Linked DNA regions of Homo sapiens: all the other regions are reported to be linked to region 2. Evidence: microRNA targets listed by miRTarBase, many of them from high-throughput screens and not tested one by one. Region 2 holds a microRNA gene; each other region holds the end of a gene's coding sequence. Distances are from middle to middle.

Region 1 (5,154 bases), 120 Mb from region 2:
TTTTGTTCAGTACATCATTGTTCTAAGGATATATTTAGTGTTTTGTGAGTGTACATTTCAACATTCAGCTGTTGAGTGAGACAGTATTACGAGACATGATGCTCTTGATATCAGCCATTCTTCAAAGGGGGCGTTTATTATGGAACAAAAGAAAATATGTGCTTCAATCTAGAATTTAAAAGCACTAACTGCAACGTTTCAAGCATATATAAATAAATGTTATCTGTCTTACCATTTTCGGGAGAAAAGTGAATCTTTACATTTGTTTTAGTGTGACTTGTTTCTGATATTCTAACCTAAAATTTCATGGTCACAAAAAAGTACAAATTAAATGTTCTCTTTATGAAAAATAAAACAGGGACTATAGCACAGGTGATGTGAGAAAAATAGTCACTAAAAAAAAAAGGAACCAAGAGTGAACAGTGAAGTAATCTATGGACTTGGGGTGATAATGATATGTCAATGTAAGTTCATGGGGTGTAAGAAAGGCACCACTCTGGTGGGGGATATGGATAGTGGGGAAGGCTATGGTAGGAGAACAGGGGGTAAATGAGAAATCTCTAGACCTTCAGATCAATTTGTTGTGAACTAAAAACAATTCTAAAAAATAAAGTCATATATATGTGTATGTGTGTGCATATATTCACATATACGTATATGCATATTATATATGTATAGATACGTGGAATGCATATATACATAAACACACACACACACACATATATATACACATTTATACACACACATACACACACCCCTAATAACTTTTAAGGACAAAAACTTTCTTCCCTTCAGAATATCTGCCAAAGTGACTTAAAGTACACCTTTACTCATTTGAGGTGGTAAGGGGTGGCATAAATATCAACTGTTTCATCACTAAGTACATTGTGTCCTAATTCTTGTCCTTCCACTATGGAATAAACCGTTATATAGCCCAGTGTGTATAATAGAACTCTCATATGGACCTCTGCAGATCTCAAATGAGGATCTTCTTAGAAACTTGAAGTAGTAGTTAGACTTATACACCAACACATGCTTTGGGTAAAAGGAAAATCCTTTATGAAAATGCAAACTTTAGGAATTAAATGCTCCCCATAAGGACTCACTTATTCCTGCATAAGTGATTGCAGGCAGAAAAACAGAATCTGAATGAACTTGTTTTTCTTTTTTTCTTAAACTTGGAAAACCTAGAAAAACAAGAGTGGTATATAGGGGCCAATTAAAATAAAAAGCACAAGGAAAAATGAGAGGAAGTCGCTCCTCTCCTCCCAATGGGAGTATTGTGTTTTGAACAATTCATGAATGGAATTTCAGAAACTCAGCAAAAGAATACATTTAACTGACTTACTCCAAATATATTCTGAATTTCATATTTACTAAATAAAGTGTTTCCAAATGAACATTTTGTATGTTGTTACATGTAACAACTGCACATTACAAAAGGAAAGGTAGGAGAATTCATCACTTAAGTTTTTAGATGCATGTATACTTAAACTTCCACATACTCCACAAATACTAAACTCGAAAAACAAAGCACCCTACATAATTTACCTTGCCACAGATGTGAAATAATTGTAAGCATACATAAATGTTAATAAAATACTTTGAATCAATGTTAAGGGGAGATATCACTGAATGGTGGACCAAAACAAACCAAATGGCAATTTGATGTCTGTGGAAATGACATACCCAGAAGCCGGTGGCTCAGCACTGATATTAATATATCTTGCTCAGTTGTCTCAATCATTTATAGTAGTTTAATTTTTTCAAGAACACAGATGTTAAGGTACTTTTAATAATTTTGAAAGGCCACAGAGTTTATCTATTTTTTGAAGTCTTGCTTTCATTGGAATTGCTTCTTTAACTTAATGAGTAAATACAAAGAATGCACAGATAAAATAAGGGTTTGTCTTCTTTTATTAGAGAAAAATGTACTTTTCCATGCCCGTGCTTTCCACATTTTGGAACTGATACAGATCCACAGAGGCCAAACCTAAAACTAAATTATCTTTAATGTTAAAATTTAATTGACTGTGTATGTAACTGTGCAATTGCTGCTTTCTCACAGAACTGTCTAGGGTTCATTCAACAGATCATAGAAACGTGGTCTGGCATTTAACAAACAGACTAATAATAGAAGAGATATACTAATTTATACAAGAATTAACTAAACACTGTCATGTGGTTTAGTGTAGCTCAAGTTATGCATGTATCATATAACATAGGTTCAAGTTCTTTTGTCAGTCACCAGAATAACAGAGGTTGAAGATACATCTGAATAAGTGCCAACTCTTGCTGCAGCTGTTTCAAAAAAATAAATTTAAGTAATTGCGATACACATTTCTACAAATAAAATATTCCAGTGCTTACATCAATCCTGAGTTTTTAAGATAAAATATGCACTACTTACAATTACCACAATATTATTTTGGAACATGGCAATTTATTTTTTAAGTTGACTCTCTTCACCAAAAAGAGGGCTTTCATTATACTCTTCCAAGTCCTCACACTCTAAAACAAAAAGTCTAGTTCACTGACAAACCATCACTTTACAACTCACATTTTAAAGAGAGTAAATTAAATGTCAAAAGGAAACAGCTTTTAATATTCAAAGGATGCTGGTCATTTATTTCAAATTTAAAAACTGTAATCAGTACATGGAGCTCCAAATACTTAAAATTTTTAATGCCAGATTTTAGTGAAATATTATTATAGCAGGTCCAACAGTCATGTACTTTGCTTGAAGAAAATGGTTTGATGAATATGTTATGGTCAAGATGGAGCAAAAACAGAAAAAGACTGGTAGTCTTAGATCATGAAATACCATATTTTTTCACCAGATAGTGACCCATTTGTTATCACTAATAGTCGACATAACATGGTTTCCACTGAAGGGATAAAATGGTCTGTGACATGACCTCATCAAGTTAGAGAAAACATAACTATGTTTGAAATATATACTATTCTCTCAACAAATAGTTCAACAGTTCCTACTCCCTAAAAAGTGGTATGTTAATGCTGAGGAAGATGTAAAAAATGAATACACAATCTCTTCCATATTCCTGTGACATGAGCAAATATGCACGAATAAAAAAAATAATACAAAACTTATGTAACTGCTGTGGAAGAGCAACTCACTCGGACATGTAGCCAAAAATGGAGACTGATGTCCACTTAGTTGGCAAAAGATTTCAATCGATCAAAAAAAAAAAAGGACTTTAAAAGCATTGTGAGGGAAGAGCATGAGCAAAGCATGAGAGTAATGGAGAGGTCGTTCAGAGAAGGCTGTCAACCTGGAGAGGCGGGAAGAAAGACAGAAGGCAGTAAAACAAGCCTAAGAGGGGGTCATGTAAAGGGGAGAGTCTCTGAATATCTAAGAACTGACATGTGGATACCACTGATAGGCTGGGAAGAGTGAAGGGCTAGAAGCATTTTAGGAAGGGAAGAGTTTTAGGAAGATAGTATTTCTGATCAATGAAGGGTGGCTCAGAAGAGAAGAGAGAACTCAGAAAAGAGTTTAATAGTACAAGCAAGGAAGAATGAGTTCTTGAACTAGGGTTGCCTCAGTGGCAATTTAAAAAAAAGAAATTTAAGGACCATTGCAGAGTAAAACTTGCCTCATGAAAACTGTATGTGAAAGATAATGGACTCAGAAGAGTCCAAGATGATACCGAAGTTCCTACCCTAAGTGGTAACATGTAGCATTAACATTGACAGGAAAACTTTTCTAGTCTCATGTTCATACCAATTAATAAATGGTTTCTGGGGAACATTATAGCAACATGTTCTCTACTTGTGACTTCTATATAAATAACCGTTTTGTGTATAGATAATCTTTGAGTTGCTTGAAAATTCTATTTTCAAACTCTTTTCCCAGTTTATTTAACACATCTCAGTTAGTGTAGAGGAGTGACATATGAACATGTCTTTCCACAAGGTTATTAAAAAGAATATCTTACCTCCCAGAAGGGAATTCCATTGCTTCCTAAATAATATACATCTACATGAAGAAGCGGTCATTGTCCGATGACAATTTGCTAATGTGCTGTACGACAGCAGATAATTCACAATTCACAACATGTTAATAATCTGCTGGCTTTCCCATTCTGTTATACATCTGAACCATCTCTTATGATTACAAATTGTCATGTAAAACCATTACTAGTCACTAATAATTTTGAAAGTGAATATGCCATAAAACACTCCTACATTACAGCAGAAAACAAAAGAGATACTCAGTAGTTACATTTGCCTACTTCCTATTTAACTAAAACTCTTGAAACAACACAAGTAAAAAAGACATCCAGAAAGGACTTATGGACTTTCTGCCTTCCACTAAAGATTTGTCGCTGATCTCCTAAAAACTGAAAATAAAGTCTTCATTAATGTGTTCATAAGGTATCAATTTTTATACACAAGATGTATATTTCTAGGTAAAATTTCCAATTTACCTTTTCCTGTTCTAAATAACTCCTACAAAACTATTCATGAATCCTAAAAATACTGTTTTATGTTATTTTATGTTATTTACTACTTATGTTAAATCTGGAACAACACATTCAAAGTGAAAATGGTAAGTAATTTAAAATGTATAACCAAAATGTCTTTCCATACATTCAGAAACAAGCAGATTGTCTTCTATTTTTATGCATGTGTTGTATTTTATAAGAACGTATTGTGTTACCAAATAGAACAGACCTTTGTGAATTGCTCGTGTGGTGGCTCAATCTCTTTCAGTTCCTTTCCCATCTTGTTGCCACCTCTTTTGTTGCTCTTGAAATATTTTCTAGAGGCACAAAACAAAAAAGTGATTAAAATTGGGTAAATTTTAATACTTATAAAACATTCTGCATTAAAGAAATACTCTTTAAATCAATACTTCTGAACACTTTCTTTTAGACAACGTTTATGACCAATTTGAAACAATTGTGTTCACCACTCATGTGCTAAAACAATAACCTTTTTCATCAGTCATGGAGTAAAGAATTTTCTTTCTTATACATATTCAACACATACGTCTTAATTCTTGATTTCAAATGAAGAGTATTTGATGACCCTTCCTATAATTTGTTGACCACAGATAGGTAAGATCTATACAGAAATTAACTAAGAAACATTCTTTCTTACTAAGATTTTAAACACCTGTTAAATCTT
Region 2 (5,154 bases):
AGACGCGGGAAGAGGCAAAAGGGAGCCACAAAGGCGTACAGGGAAGGACTTCTTTCTTTCTTTTCCTTATTATTATTATTATTATTTGCAATTTAAGGGGATTGGAGAGTGACTGCCCAGCGTGCGCGAGGGATGCCAGATGAACCGCTAATTAGCAAAAGGTAGTAACTAGAAGGGCGCCCTGTCTGATGGCTGTGGGGCTCAGTTTGGCCAGGTTGGGTTGGCAAATACTATGCATTTTGAGTCAAGTTTGGAGTATTTTTTTTTTAATGGAAAAGAAATCTTCACAGGTGTAGAAACCCAATTTAAGGGGAAAAATGTTATTTTTCTCATTTCTATACTAAATCCATTCTTCCCTAATAGAAAATTGATTCCAGATTGATGTATAAGTTTTATAAATCAGTTTAGTTTGTAAAGACTTCTAAAGACTCATTTAGTGGCATAAGATATCGTGACGAAAGTTCAACATTTAAAATTCCCTCACTCGTTTAACGTATTACAGATTCTGTCCCAAACGTTTTTGTTTTTCTTTTAAACAAAAGTTACCCCATCATGGAAGAGATAGGGGACCCTGTGAGCCTTTTTCACATAGAGGCTCACTTCCTTGCTGTATGTTCTTAGGTAAAATAAGCACTTGGAAATGGGAGAAGGTTTTCTTATGGAAGATAATGACATGAAGGGAAGAAGAGCTAATCTGCCTACTTTGGTTTAATGGAGAAAATGGGTCCATAAATGTTTAAACAGAAGTAGAGCCCTTTGAAATAGATCAAAATGTGACATCTCTCAGCCATCTGTGCATTATGTGAAGACTGTAAGGCTGTGTTTCTTAAACCAGCTCTAAAATTTCTCTCATTTTCTATTAATGGGGTGGGGGCTGGGAATATTCATTTAATCTAACAGTCACTTTCCGTATGGAGCCCAAAAGCTCTGAATGATCTGAAGACTCGAATACTCATCCTGGGTTTTACATGCTCCTTTCTCTAGGTCCTCCTCTTATAAAATCAGGGTGGATAGAATGTGCCTGCAAATTACTGAGATGCAGATATCAAATTTTCTTAGATGGAGAGGGGGAGTCCAAAATCTGCTTATACATAAGAATTGGACTTTTTGCAGTTGCCAGTGTTATTCGTGTTCAATTCTGTGTAAATAATTGAGATTATTAATATTTCTCAGGATTTGGTTGAAACCACAAAACCTAGCTTAGACTCTGTAAGCCAAAGGAAAGCCTGTTTCAGGAATATTAACTAGTAGTTTACTTGTTTAGTTTCTAATATGTGTGTGTTTGTTTTGTTGTTTTAACCAGGTGAGTCTGCATGGATCTGTGAGGACGGAAAAGAAGAGCTCCTGGAAGACTTAAAATTTTGCTACAGGAATAGGCCTTGGCCATGTAAAAGTGCTTACAGTGCAGGTAGCTTTTTGAGATCTACTGCAATGTAAGCACTTCTTACATTACCATGGTGATTTAGTCAATGGCTACTGAGAACTGTAGTTTGTGCATAATTAAGTAGTTGATGCTTTTGAGCTGCTTCTTATAATGTGTCTCTTGTGTTAAGGTGCATCTAGTGCAGTTAGTGAAGCAGCTTAGAATCTACTGCCCTAAATGCCCCTTCTGGCACAGGCTGCCTAATATACAGCATTTTAAAAGTATGCCTTGAGTAGTAATTTGAATAGGACACATTTCAGTGGTTTGTTTTTTGCCTTTTTATTGTTTGTTGGGAACAGATGGTGGGGACTGTGCAGTGTACAGTTGTGTACAGAGGATAAGATTGGGTCCTAGTAGTACCAAAGTGCTCATAGTGCAGGTAGTTTTGGCATGACTCTACTGTAGTATGGGCACTTCCAGTACTCTTGGATAACAAATCTCTTGTTGATGGAGAGAATATTCAAAGACATTGCTACTTACAATTAGTTTTGCAGGTTTGCATTTCAGCGTATATATGTATATGTGGCTGTGCAAATCCATGCAAAACTGATTGTGATAATGTGTGCTTCCTACGTCTGTGTGAACACACCTTCATGCGTATCTCCAGCACTCATGCCCATTCATCCCTGGGTGGGGATTTGTTGCATTACTTGTGTTCTATATAAAGTATTGCACTTGTCCCGGCCTGTGGAAGAAAGGAGGATTTTTATCGTCTTCTTATTTTAACTTTTAAAAGCCGTAAGTTCTGATATTTAGTCATTGTAAAATGATCTGTTTTGCTGTTGTCGGGTGGATCACGATGCAATTTTGATGAGTATCATAGGAGAAAAATTGCACGGTATCCATCTGTAAACCGCAGGACCTTTGTTGGCGACATTCCTGATCAGCGCTACAGTAAGCTAGATGGTAAAAAATCCTTTCTCTAGTTGCTGCTATTAAAAAATAATTTGAAATATATTTGGATTTCTAAAAACTATGATAGCTAATTTATAAAGTATGTGTTTTGGAACTTTGGTGAATGATCAGATTGTTACTGAATGTGAATGAACCTCAAAATAAATGAAATTTATAGATCTGAAAAAATGACTCTTTTTTTTTTAAAAAAAATAATTAGCAATGCTAGAGGAGTTTGTAAAATATCTCTTGGGAGGATCCTAAAGGAAAACTTGGACATAGCTGCTTTTCAAGTTTGCATCTACATAAAGCACCAAGATGCCTAATTTTAGGAATTTTATTACCCTGACAATATTTGGATGACATGTACTAATTTTGTTTTAGTACACGTGCTCATTCTTAGGAAGGGAATGAAGAGTTGTAAACCAATGGGACACATACCTTTAAGGAACTGGGCACATTTTGAGGTCTGACAGGAGAGAAGAATGAACTTGTCAATCAAACTCTGTTTTGGGGTTCTCGGAGAAGAGGATTTGGTGGCAGGGCTACTGAGAGGGATGGCTGCTGCCTTGCTTTGGAGTCTAGCAGATGGAAACCTGGATGTGGGCCTACTGTTAATATTTAGGGTTCGGGGGCTCCATAGGGTGACTAACCTAAAGCAGAAATTTCTCATGCGCAGCTAATTAGTGGTTTGAGACTGAACACCAAAAGTTATTTGGATCCTCTAGTGGTTCTTAAAACTTTAGCACTTACTAAGACACAGCCAGCCAACCCCATCTCCAGAGATTCATTCAATAGGTCTGGATGGGGCCTAAGGAATTGCATTTCTTTATTTTTTTCTTTTTGAGACGGAGTTTCGCTCTTGTTGCCCAGACTGGAGTGCAATGGCCCGATCTCTCATTCACCACAACCTCCACCTTCCGGGTTGAAGTGATTCTCCTGCCTCAGCCTCCTGAGTAGCTGGGATTACAGGCGTGCGCCACCACGCTTGGCTAATTCTGTACTTTTAGTAGAGACGGGGTTTCACCATGTTGGTCAGGCTGGTCTCGAACTCCTGACCTCAAGAGATCCACCCACCTTGGCCTCCCAAAGTGCTGGCATTACAGGTAAGGAATTGCATTTCTAACCTTTCCCTAGGAGCTGATGCTGCTGGTCAAGACACCATACTTGCAGAACCACTGCTCGAAAACAGCTAACGACAGCTTCTAGGACAAAGTTAACAAAGGAAGTTGTTTATTTTAAACTTCATAAAATTAAAAGAACTCGAAGCAGGGACTGGCTTGCTTTCCAGTTCTATGTTTCATATTTTAATGTTAATCTTTAACATCATGTATTTGGCAAATGAAGAAACGAGGCTTGTGGTAGTTTTACTGTCTGCCAACATGAACATTTAGTTCTCATCAAAAAGGTGCTGCCAAACTAAAAGATGGTATCAGTATGTGTCATTCTTACTTCCTGGTGCCATGGAATTTTCTAATTTTGAAACCCTTTTGATTTTTCCTCATAACATCAGTCCATTTTAATCAGTAAGAGGAACTCTCTCTGAATTGCATTTTAATCTTGAGCTAGTTGCCTAAGGCTTCAATTTCCTCATTAGGGGAAATACAGTGATAACATTGGTCTACCTCAAGGATATGTGGGTTAAGTAAGTTCTCTGGTGGTGGCGGCTGGGGGGATGGATTTTAATTGTTAGTGATGAAGTGAAATCTTAATGAAAAGAGACTTAGGGTAGTAAATTCTGTCGTCCAGTATTAAGTATGTGTGTGTAATTTTTTAAAAGTGACTAATGCTTGAGGCAATTATACAAACATAAATAACTACAGGTATTTCCTGTGTTGTCTAGTGCTGACTACGTTGTTGGTGCCTAATCATAGTTAAGTTTGATGTGGCAGCAAAGAAAAGGGTCTCCCGCCCTTTAATAAAGTAGCTCAGTAAAAGAGGGGATTAAAGCTTATTTGTTGTAATCCTTAACACCACCAAACCTCCACTTTAATAATACAAATTTATTGTCCTAGTGGTTCACTGGTGCTTTACCTAACGTGGCTAGTATGCAGTCAGTTATTGCAGTTTCCACTTTTAATAGGCTTGTGTGGAGGAGCTGTGTTCCTTAGGGTAGGCCACTCTGCCCACTAGAGTCAATTCCCTCACCTAAAGTTAGGGCCGAACTTGATGATCTGAGGACCCTTTCTAGCTTCAAAAATTCTGATTCTATATTTGCTCAAGTTAGACTAATCCAATAATTCTTTTTTTTTTTTTTTTGAACATTTCATCTTTTACTTTTTAGGACCAACAGACTTGATAACAGCCTGATGCTGATCTGACAATGGGTTGACAGCCTTCCCCCACTGGCCCTTAAGTCTGCTTAATAATAAGTCCTTTGCTTCTGTCATTCTCCTGGGGGATGGCCTACTGCCCTCCTTTCTGTACAATCTGGGCAAACCGACTGGTGATGGCAAGAGTGGTGTCAATGAAGTGGTCTACACAGCTGGAGAGACAATTTTCAGTGCAAGAGTCCAGGCGATTCCCTGGCTTCTCCACACATTTATCCCAACATAACTCCATGAAGTGATGCACCTGTGCAGTAAACTGCGCCTTCTGCTGTTCGGCGGCCACCAGGTGCTGCAACTCCGCTCCATCGGCTTCACCCAGCTCCGCCTTTGTTCACCTCAGACTTATCCAATAATTCTTCAAGTGTTTTGCATTGAAGTCATTTGTCTAGAATACTTGGGAATGGGTTAATTTAAGTCATTAATCATGGGCAAAATTAGTAATATCTACATACGACATATATAGCTTGCTCATTTTTAAATAATTACAGTAAGTTCAGTAGAAGCACT
Region 3 (5,147 bases), not on the chromosome of region 2:
CCTGACTCAAGTCTGTGTCCTCTGCCACACCTAGCTCAGATTCTGGCACCAACGACGTTCACAGTCAGTGTTGGCTGGACCCTGGGTTCTTGTTTCTGCTCTCACCAGGGTAGAAGGAACAAATTTAAGGCCGTCTAACTTCACCATTAATGACTTCCTGAGAATTTCCTGGGGAAGCATGATTGTTGCAGGCCATGTCCTTGGAATTCAGATTAAAAGAATCTTTTCTCTCCTAAACTATGCTGTTGTTTCCATAAAGTTCCTACCCTAGGCCTTAGTCCACATTTTTGTGTAATAGCATTAAAGCCACCTGGCTGATAATAGCAAGGGCAGGAGCAATGATTGGACACTTCATTAGAGAGAACCCAAGAGGCTTCCTAGTCAGTAAACTGGGCATAAGCAAGCAGCTTGGGGTGCCTGGTTATGCCTCCCAGATCTGTAGTTGTGCGGAGGAAGTGTTTGGGCATAACAATGGATACACAGAAAGGGGTTTTAAAAGTTTTTTTTTTTCTTTTCACCCCCAGGCCTGTGTTCCAAAGATGCAGTAATAACCATTAGGGCCAGGTTTTGAATCACAATGTTTTCAAAAGGAAACAAAGTAGAACTGTAAATCCCTAAGAGTGGGAATACGCTATTGCTGTTACCTTTTTTGTTAATTCTTCTGCAAACCAGAGGAACAACTTAGGATAGAGCAAGATACTTCCTATGCTAGAACCTAATTCTGAGTAAGGATACCTACATTAAGAGCAAGCTTTGTGATGTTAACAACAGGCATATGTAATGCCAAAGTATGAACTTTACAGGATCTCTAAGACGTTTTCTGTAAGAGCTTACATGCCAAAGATGCCAGGATGGATCACTAAACCCTGAGTGGAATCGAAAATACTAGAATTATGCCGCACAGTCAGCATTCTACTTTCATGAGACATACAAATTATGGGAAAGTTAACGGGGTTGTTTTCAAACTAACCTTGTACTAACATAGTACTGGGTTCAGTACACATGACCAGATTTTTTTACACTTACTCCACCTATAGTCCTCTAATAAGATTTGGTACTTAATGACATAATGCTGTAGCTAAATTGTCTATTGTAAAATTAACAGGGGCAGCAGAGAGTGAAGAGCAAATCTAATGCATTAGAACATTCACTGAAACTCTTGTCTCCATCAATCAGAACGTTCAATGAATCAGAACCCCTAATGAATCAGAACCTCTGACCACACTGGACACGTTTGCTAAATTTAGCTTTGTATCGGCAAACGCTGAAGCTCAGAATAGTTTACAGAGCTCTCATCTTACCCTTAGACAGTGATTCTTCTAAGACTGCTTTTCCATGGCAGGCCAAGGCAAGGCAAGGGGCATTCCACATGCTCTCTCAACGCCCATTGTTAAGAGACTGGCCCAAGGTTAAATGAATCTGACAAGCCATGGCAAAAATGTTGATCCCGACCTCTCCACAGTGGGACCAGGAAATTAGCCATATATCACATTTCACGTGTTAGAAGTAGTTTGCAGGAATGGCCTAACATGCTCTATGGTCCTTGAACCACATCCCATATTACTCAACCATCTAAGTCTAGCTTCCCTGAATCTCTAGCTTCTCTGAATTAGACGTGGCCAAGTTCTATAAATAGAGAGCAAGCAAACTGGTTCTGTCAATCTTCTCATACTCTGGCAAGATGGCATATTTTAAAATTATAAAAATATCTATGTCTTCATCACTCTAAAATTATTACATAACACATGATTTTCTCAGGGGAAAAATGTTTATTCTTGTCTTCCCTTACCTTCCAGCACTTATGTATGGACCTTCAAACTTTGTGATCATATTCATCAAACACAAACCATACTTTACAACCAAAACTAAGGGCCTACTATGTGCCAAACACTATGTGCCAAACACTATGTTATGCAAATCAAGAAATGTTTAAGGAAAAAACAACCAAAAACCAAGTCTCTTATTTTAAATTCCAGCTGGCAATTCTGTAACAACTTGTGGTAGCATGAACATAGGTCACTTTAGATAGACTGCAGCTATTACTGTAGTGTTAGCTCATGATCACTATTCTAACATGGGCTTTTAGTAGATTTCACTAGAGACCTTCATCCCATATGTCCCTAGAAGAGGCCAATATCCCTGCATAGCTGAGGTCTTAAAAACATGACATTACATATGCAGGGTAAATTCTAAAATAGTGAGCTTGACAGACTCTTCCACTATTCACTATATATGTCTAATCCAATGAAGGATATAGGGCTTCCCTCACTCATACCCCCTAATAAAAAACCACAAAATCATAATAATAGACATTAGCACAGTTTATAAATAAATCACATTTTAATCATCTGGCTTTGTTTAATCTACAAAATCAAATTCACAGCTTTTTCTAGTCTGGTCTGTTTTTTCTAACCAGATGGCCTAGTATATTTTCTAAAACCTTCCATCTTTTAAGGAAAACATGTTCCACCTTTTTTTTTTTTTTGCAATCCCAGAGCCAACTTCCCTAATGCAATCACCTCAAAGAAACACTGATGGGCTGGTGGTGAACCACAGACTCAAAGTCTTTCAGAACAGTAAAAGAAAAAAAAAAAAAAAGGAACAAAAGGTCACTAAGCAATGTCCAGTGTTCCCTGGAAAGCCTCTTCCTGAATGCTCCAGTCACTGAGCTGTCCCCTCCCTGTGGTCACTCCTGCTGGCCCCTGTAGCATTCCATTCCTTCTGCCATCTGTTTCAGGTTCTGCAGTGCTTATAAGGTAGTGTCTGGAGGGGTGTGAGCCTTATTTCTTTCTGCTCCTAACCCAACCTGTTTCTTTCATGCTGTGTAAATGGTTCTAGAGCCCACCTAGGCCAGAACCAGTTCTCAGCTGGTGTGCGGGCACCTTCCATCCACTGTACTATGTGCCAGTTCAGAGCCACAGCAGTAATGATCACAGTGAGGGCTAATGATATGCATTACAAAGTCTACAAAAACAAATAAGGATTTTTATTTGCAGTACTTTCCACTCTTCCTTTAAAAACTTGCCATTTGCTTATCAGTTCCTCTGGGGCTGACCCACTCAAACAAGACAAAGGATAAAGAACAAAAGATAGTCCTCCGAGGTTACAGGCTTGGAAGGGCAGAGAGGAGCTACGAACCTTGGAAGAAAAACAAGGTGCTCAGGAATTCATCGCCTAACATTTCACTTCCCCACCCACCCCTTAGTGCTCCCACTTTGGCAGTGATCTCTCTTTGGCTTTAAAGAGAAAGGGGGAAATGTGCCTTGTTTTGCAGGTGTGCAACAACACAGCTCTGGCATCTCAAGCAGCAGGGGAGAACTCTAAGACAGAAGAATTTCTTCATGAAAATCACGGTATGTTATCACATACTGTCTCCATGGCCCATACAAGGACTCCTTAAGGTTCTCTCTAACATACAACATATCCCCCACAACTCAGTAGAGAGGTTTTCTTCCCACTGGAATAGAAATCCTTTGCCTCATTTATTACAGTCTAAAAATCCACACTGGCTTTTTGATTCTTTCTAGCATGAGCTCAGACACTATACTTCAAAAGAATGCCCAGAGGCATTTTCTTAGGTAGAGACTTAGCTGCGGGCTGAGACTTCGGCCCCACATAGCTCACATCAATTCTGCAGCTGCCTCCTTTCCTCCCAATAAAAGCATCATAGCTCAGAGCTACAAGCTCCTTGAATGGAGAAAACCCAAATCACCCAGGAAAGGTGACACAACTCCTGATGTGCAGTATCAAGTGTGAATGCTGGAAATGCTACTTAAAAGGTTGACCAGGAATGGCCTGGAGGTTGTCTTCAACTTGAGTAAATCACACAGACCTCTGAGATTTATCCTACCCTCATTCCTAGAACAAAAAAAAAGTATATTTAAGAAATCCTCACTCATTACTATCACTGTATTCCTCACTCTCTTACAATATACTGAGGAAAAAAAAGATTTCTCCTTAACCTCCTACTAAAAACTAAAATTAAGGGGACCCTATAAACAAGTCAGGCAGCCAACATGATAAGGGCAATTTTGGCAAAATATGACTGGGCTGAGTAGAGAGGTATCTCAGAGACAGCTAGCATCTTTGTTGGTCAAACCCTAGTATGAATAATTCAGTGCTCTTCATCAGATGAAAGGCCTTCAATTTCATCTCTGTCTCCCCCGATTGCCATCCAGAATGCTTTGGCCACCTGTGGAGAGAAGCATGCAACAAATTTTAGGCAACAGCTACATTTCAGCTTGTTTCATATGTCATACCTTAAACTGACTGAGACCTAAAATTCTGCACTTTGCCCTCCAGTCCTCTGGCAACACATATCAGAACCCTTGAATACCATTTGACCCATGATCGCCACATCTAGAAATTTATACCAAGGATATATTTAGAGTTGTATACAAAGATGATGTGTAAAGACATGCACAGCTTTGTTATTTATAGAAGCAAAAAATGCACATGACCTAAATGTCCAAAAGGGAACAGGATAAATTATGACACATATCAGGGAACACCATCAACCATACAAGTTTCCTGCCAATAGCATGTGTTGTGTTGGTAATAATAAAACAAAACAACTAAGAGTTTTCTGGCCCAATAGTTAGAAAGGCAAACATCCTGAGTCTCAATAAAGGTTCCACATCACTCACCATCCAGGTGAAAAATCTTGGTTTGACTGCAGCAACTATACTATTACTGTATAAATATTTAATTAGTTAGAAGTTAATATTCAATGAAAAGCTCACACTAAGACCCTTCAGAAATACACAAGTGTGATATATAATTATAATAATAGCACTGGACCTTTTATAGGTATTCAATAAATACCTGGCTGATTGTCTCACCTTTTCTGCATGCACTTTTCTTTGCTCATGAGGAAGCGTCGCAGCCTTGTCTAGGGGGAAAATATATCTTAAGAAATTTGTCTAATAGCACAGGATAACCTGGAGTATATGAATAACACTAGAAGATGGGAGACGGGTTTCAAAGACATGTTTATGATGTAGTCATTACATGTATTAGGAAGTTTTTAAGTCTTCCAAATTTTCCAGATGGGAATGATGTGAGTAAATTGGTAGGGATCTTACAGTTTCCACCTTATGTAACACATTGAAAGAAACAAGGCAAAAGCAGGAAAAGTAAAAAGAAAG
Region 4 (5,154 bases), not on the chromosome of region 2:
TATATGTATTCATCCATATGCTTCACATATTTGACATGACAGGTCTTTACAGGTTTGTTATTGGTCTTCTTATCTAGACTCACACTTGCTGGAGCAGAAGTATTCATTTATGAACCTCGGATAGCACCAGCATTTAACATATGCATATTTGTGTGTGTGGGTGGGTGTGCATGCACGTGTATTGCATTCTAGGGGTTACTGCCTGTATGAGGAATTAGTTACCTAAGGATTAAACGGAAGATGAAACCCCAGGTGAAGTGGTTGAGGGCATGAAGGGGAGGCAGACCCAGACTTTCACCCCTTTGTGTTCCTGACATTCAAGAGCCCCTGAGGTCCAACCCCTCCTCCATGGAGCCTGGGTCCTCAGCTGGCGGATCCGTGAAACTCATCTCTGGGGAGCATTGGCTTCTGTGGTCCTGCACCTGCTCCTTGCAGCCAGTTAGGGCTCAGAGAGGACACAGAGAGCACACAAGGTCCCAGGCTGCACAGAGAGCACATAAGGTCCTGGTTATTTCTGTATTGGGGACCACTTACCATATCCATGCTGAGCTCCCGGGATGCAGGAAAACTCTCCCAAATGACTCAGGAGCTGAGTTTGGATTTGTAGAACACAGGAAGTCTGAAATAATTCAATGAGGAGACTGGAGGGAACCCTGCTACAGCAGAGGAAGGGTTTATTGAGGAACTCCATAAAACTCATGTCAAGAGACACAGGGGAAAAGAAGAATGCAGAGCCCAGGAGTGAGGCTGGGCTCAGGGCTCTTCTCCACTGTTTTGATTCTCAGAAGCAGCTGAGACCCTCAGCCCATCACAAAACAAGACAGACTCCACGACTAGTGAGTGAGGAGATGCTCTCAGTTATGGGACTGGCACAGAGGGTCAGGTCCTGTAAAGGGGAGGTGGGTGCCCTGGGTGGACATACAGGAGTCCCGGGGTGATTCCGATCTGCCCTGACCTCTGTGACCTCTTTGTCCAGCATCCCTAGGCCAACACCCCCAGGATTACACAGTGGAGAATCTCATCCGCATGGGTGTGGCTGGCTTGGTCCTGGTGGTCCTCGGGATTCTGCTATTTGAGGCTCAGCACAGCCAGAGAAGCCTACAAGATGCAGCCGGGAGGTGAACAGCAGAGAGGACAATGCATCCTTCAGCGTGGTGGAGCCTCAGGGACAGATCTGATGATCCCAGGAGGCTCTGGAGGACAATCTAGGACCTACATTATCTGGACTGTATGCTGGTCATTTCTAGAGACAGCAATCAATATTTGAGTGTAAGGAAACTGTCTGGGGTGATTCCTAGAAGATCATTAAACTGTGGTACATTTTTTTGTCTATGAATGTTGACTTCCCTTGACTGGATCCCCTTTTTTTCCCATCCCCAGACATGAGGCTCCATCCCACATGGCACCGTTGGGTCCACACCTCCACACACCTGTGTGCTCTGGTCCACGGCATGTGACACAGTCTTCCTTATTCCTCATTGTCACACTCCTTGATGTCACTTACTGAGTCCCCGTCTCTTCAGTTCAGAGATCCAAACCTGAACCACCAACTAAATCAACGACAGGAGATCAGATTCCAACCAGGAAAACATAAATCCACCCTGCTGCCCTGACACCCTCTCTGTACCTTATGAGCCCTTCCCTCTTTCTCAGATGCTATCTGTGTAATTTCTCCTGAAATATCACCACTTGGAATCATCACACTGGCATTTCAAGTGACACCACAGCTATGCTGATTCAGAAAAAGACATCTCTAAAATACTGTAATTAGTGGTATCTACCAATTTCTGTGACATAAATATTTTTCTCATGGCCCAAATCAAGGTGCCAATGGGTTCTCACTGAATACAGGGTTGGGAAGCAAGGGACAGAACTGTCTTCACTAATGAGCACCAGGGACCTGTGGCACATCCCACTGAGAGCTCACCCATATACCTACAGTCCTTTCTATTTCAGAGGCAATGATCACTTCTACTTCAGTGTTATGGCACAGGTCAAATGAAATTCTGACACTGTTATCCTAGCATATCCACAAAAGACAAACCTATTAATATCTGATGTGGGAGATAACACGGCTCACCTAAAAATCAAAGTACATGCCGGGCGCGGTGGCTCACGCCTGTAATCCCAGCACTTTGGGAGGCCAAGGCAGGCAGATCACGAGGTCAGGAGATCTAGACCATCCTGGCTAACATGGTGAAACCCCGTCTCTACTAAATACACAAAAAAATATTGGCCGGGCGTGGTGGTGGGCGCCTGTAGTCCCAGCTACTCAGGAGGCTGAGGCAGGAGAATGGCGTGAACCTGGGAGGCGGAGCTTGCAATGGGCCGAGATTGCGACACTGCCCTCCAGCCTGGGCGACAGAGCAAGACTCCGTCTCAAAAAAAAAAAAAAATCCAAGTACAACATAAGAAAAATGTTAACAGAACTATGCAGTTTCGATGAAAGAATTTTTTTTGAGATGGAGTTTTGCTTTGTTGCCCAGGCTGGAGTGCAATGGTGCAATCTCGGCTCACTGCAACCTCCACTTCCCAGGTTCAAGCAATTCTCCTGCCTCTGCCTCCCGAGTTACTGGACTACAGGTGTGCACCACCATTCCCGGCTATTTTTTGTATTTTTAGTAGAGACGGGGGTCTCGCCATGTTAGTGAGGCTGGTCTTGAACTCCTGACCTCAGGTTATCCACCTGCCTCAGCCTCCCAGAGTGCTGGGATTACAGGTGTAAGCCACTGTGCCCGGCTGATGGAAGAATTCTTAAATGACTCGTTCTACTTTCTGCTGGTCCAGGCACTCCTTGGCTTGGGGCAGCATCCCACCAGTTTCTGCCTCCATCTTCTCAATGCTTACACCTACCTGGTTGCCTCTGTCTTCACACCCATTCTTCTGTGTGTGTCTTTTCTCTTCTTCAGATTATGATATCACTCAGATCAGATTAGGACTCATCCTAATTCGTTATGATCCCTTGATCATAACTTAAATGCATTTGCAAAGACTCTATTTCCAACTATGTTCACATTTATAGCTAATGGGGCTCAGGATTTCAACGTGTATATTAGGGGGAACAAGTCAATTTATGACAGTGTCTACAAGAAAAGTATGCATAGAAATACATTTAACCAAATACAAAAATTAGGTGGGTGTGGTGGTACACGCCTGTAATCCCAGCTACTCAGGAGGCTGAGACAGGAGAATCGCGTCAACCCAGGAAACAGAGGTTGCAGTGAGCTGAGATCTTGCCATTGCACTCCAGCCTGGGCAACAGAGTGAGACTCTGTCTCAAAAAAAGAGAAATACATTTAACCAAAGAGATGCAATACGTATACATTGACAATTTTAAAATACTGCTCAAAGAAATAACAAAAGACCTAAATGAGGAAAAAGTCATCCCAGTATCATAAATCAAAAGGCTTAAAATTAGTTATCTCCCTCTAGGGAACCTAGACTAATACACTCACCCCGTCTCCTTGTTCGGAGGCTCTCCTGCCTATCAGCTTTTCTCCTCTGTGCTTTCCATGTCCCTGTGGTTCTCTGGTGAGCCCCATCATGCTGTCCTAGAAGATCCACTTAGAATTTCGGTATTTACTCACCATTTTGACTCCTCTTAACGAGACAGGCACATGCCAGCTGTTTCCATTCATCCAACCTGAACCTGAGCCCCCGATCATTTTTTCTACCACTTTTCAGTCCTGGGAAACTCAGTCCCAATGTGCTTGTCATTCATTTGAGAATAATTTTCATTTTCTCCAGTAGTTTTAAAATTACTTTGTATCTATTCTAGATATCGTTTGCTCTATCATAGTTAAGACATTAATGTTATTTATGAATTTGTGCACATTAAACTCATGATCTTTCATTTCTGTAAAAATGTCAACTATTTCCTTTGCAAGTATTTATTGACTAACATACTCCTTATTTCCTTCATTCTGAAAGTGTGACACATAGAGATATATCTGTTTCCTCTTCTCACTCTATTCTTTGTGTGCATTAATTATCTTTTCTATTTTTTTCATTTCTAGTTTTTCTCCGATGACTAATGAAAAATTTAATAAATATTCTACACCAATACAATGTTTATCATTTCAGCAGTGTCTGGTTCTTGATGAAAGTATTTCTAAATGTGTTAATATAATTTACTATTTTCACATCACAATAGCTTCCTAATTCATTTCTATAATTGCCTGTTTTTTCTCTAATGGACTCTTCGATTTTTATTCCTCTGGGGTGGGTTTTTCTCCCACACACCTGATCTTCCATACAGGGTTTCTCCCAGGGATGACTCAGGAAGGAAAACTGATGAGGGGCATTTTTGTACCCGCTCCTGCCCTGCGGTGTCCATGCTCCCAAGTTTAGAATCAGCTCTGTGTTATGCCTGGCATGGTGGAGCCCATGAGACCCTCACATTCAAGTGCCAAAGATGCCCGGTCCAGCAGTGATAAAGCGAGACTGTGTCATGCACACCCGGGAAGGTGGCTCAGTGCTGAATGTGGCCTGGGTCACCAAACCAAGCAATCCCAGATTCTGTCCACAAATACAGAAGAGAGGGAGCCACAGTCTCTCTAGGATCCCACGGTTTCCTCCACTTTTTCCTTTGTTCTGAGAGAAAGACAAAGTGCCATGACTGCTCTGTGGGCTGGACAGATGCCTGTTTTCACCTGCAGGCTTGAACTCAAGCTGAGGTCTTGAGCATTCCCAGGTACTGATAAAGCACCTTAGATTGTTTCTAGAAAACACTGAAAAATTAACCCTTTGTTAATTATGTAGAAACAAACCCTGCCCTGAACCAAACTCCTGAAACGCTCAGGTTAAACTTTGTAACTCAATCCCTTCACTGCAGATACCCAGTAGGAAAGTCACATGAGCAAGGATGAGATGACTTTGGTTAAACTCAGACCCCACAGGGCCAGGAAGGCCTGACGGAGAGGAGGCTCGTGTTGCCAGGTCTCAGATAAGAACTGTTTCTAAGGACTTTTTTAAAAACCCCATAAGAAACTCTTCCATGTCTTTCACCCCTCTCCTGCTTTGACATGGTTTATTACTAGATATTCTTTAGGACATCAGGAATGCAGATAGGCTGCTCTCGAGAGAATACTTGCCCAGCAATGGCATCTCCTCCAATGGACTGACAGCAACTCTGGCTTTGAACCTCTGGAACCA

Evidence for each region. Region 2 holds the annotated microRNA hsa-miR-106a-3p (CUGCAAUGUAAGCACUUCUUAC, at 1,427-1,448, shown strand). A microRNA usually pairs through its seed, bases 2 to 8, with sites in the 3' UTR of a target mRNA and lowers its output. Matches are read on the target gene's strand: a 7mer-m8 pairs with bases 2 to 8, a 7mer-A1 pairs with bases 2 to 7 and ends in A, and an 8mer does both.
Region 1: the mRNA of FAM9C is a reported target of hsa-miR-106a-3p. The part of its 3' UTR that is shown has no 7-base or 8-base seed match.
Region 3: the mRNA of AAGAB is a reported target of hsa-miR-106a-3p. Seed matches in the 3' UTR shown: 7mer-A1 at 2,484-2,490.
Region 4: miRTarBase lists LILRA2 as a target of hsa-miR-106a-3p. Seed matches in the 3' UTR shown: 7mer-m8 at 3,238-3,244.

Annotation. Positions count from the first base shown.
Region 1 is chrX:13,033,718-13,038,871 of GRCh38, forward strand. It overlaps FAM9C (family with sequence similarity 9 member C), which reads right to left. Exons shown (of 8, transcript NM_174901.6): 7 at 4,699-4,786; 8 at 1,900-2,301. The coding sequence ends at 4,724. Among named protein-coding and RNA genes, the nearest start is that of FAM9C, 8.3 kb to the right of the region's middle.
Region 2 is chrX:134,166,502-134,171,655 of GRCh38, reverse strand. MIR106A (microRNA 106a) reads left to right here and starts at 1,378; the gene lies at 1,378-1,458. It overlaps MIR106AHG (miR-106a-363 cluster host gene), which reads left to right. Exons shown (of 2, transcript XR_007068340.1): 2 at 1,304-2,506. It overlaps MIR363 (microRNA 363), which reads left to right and starts at 2,204; the gene lies at 2,204-2,278. It overlaps MIR92A2 (microRNA 92a-2), which reads left to right and starts at 2,044; the gene lies at 2,044-2,118. It also overlaps MIR19B2, MIR20B, MIR18B and the pseudogene TIMM8BP2.
Region 3 is chr15:67,198,707-67,203,853 of GRCh38, forward strand. AAGAB (alpha and gamma adaptin binding protein) reads right to left here. Exons shown (of 10, transcript NM_024666.5): 9 at 4,842-4,891; 10 at 1,961-4,192. The coding sequence ends at 4,115. Among named protein-coding and RNA genes, the nearest start is that of AAGAB, 53 kb to the right of the region's middle. RefSeq lists an enhancer at 1-109.
Region 4 is chr19:54,586,225-54,591,378 of GRCh38, forward strand. LILRA2 (leukocyte immunoglobulin like receptor A2) reads left to right here. Exons shown (of 8, transcript NM_001130917.3): 7 at 786-836; 8 at 977-4,063. The coding sequence ends at 1,122. Among named protein-coding and RNA genes, the nearest start is that of LILRA1, 4.8 kb to the right of the region's middle.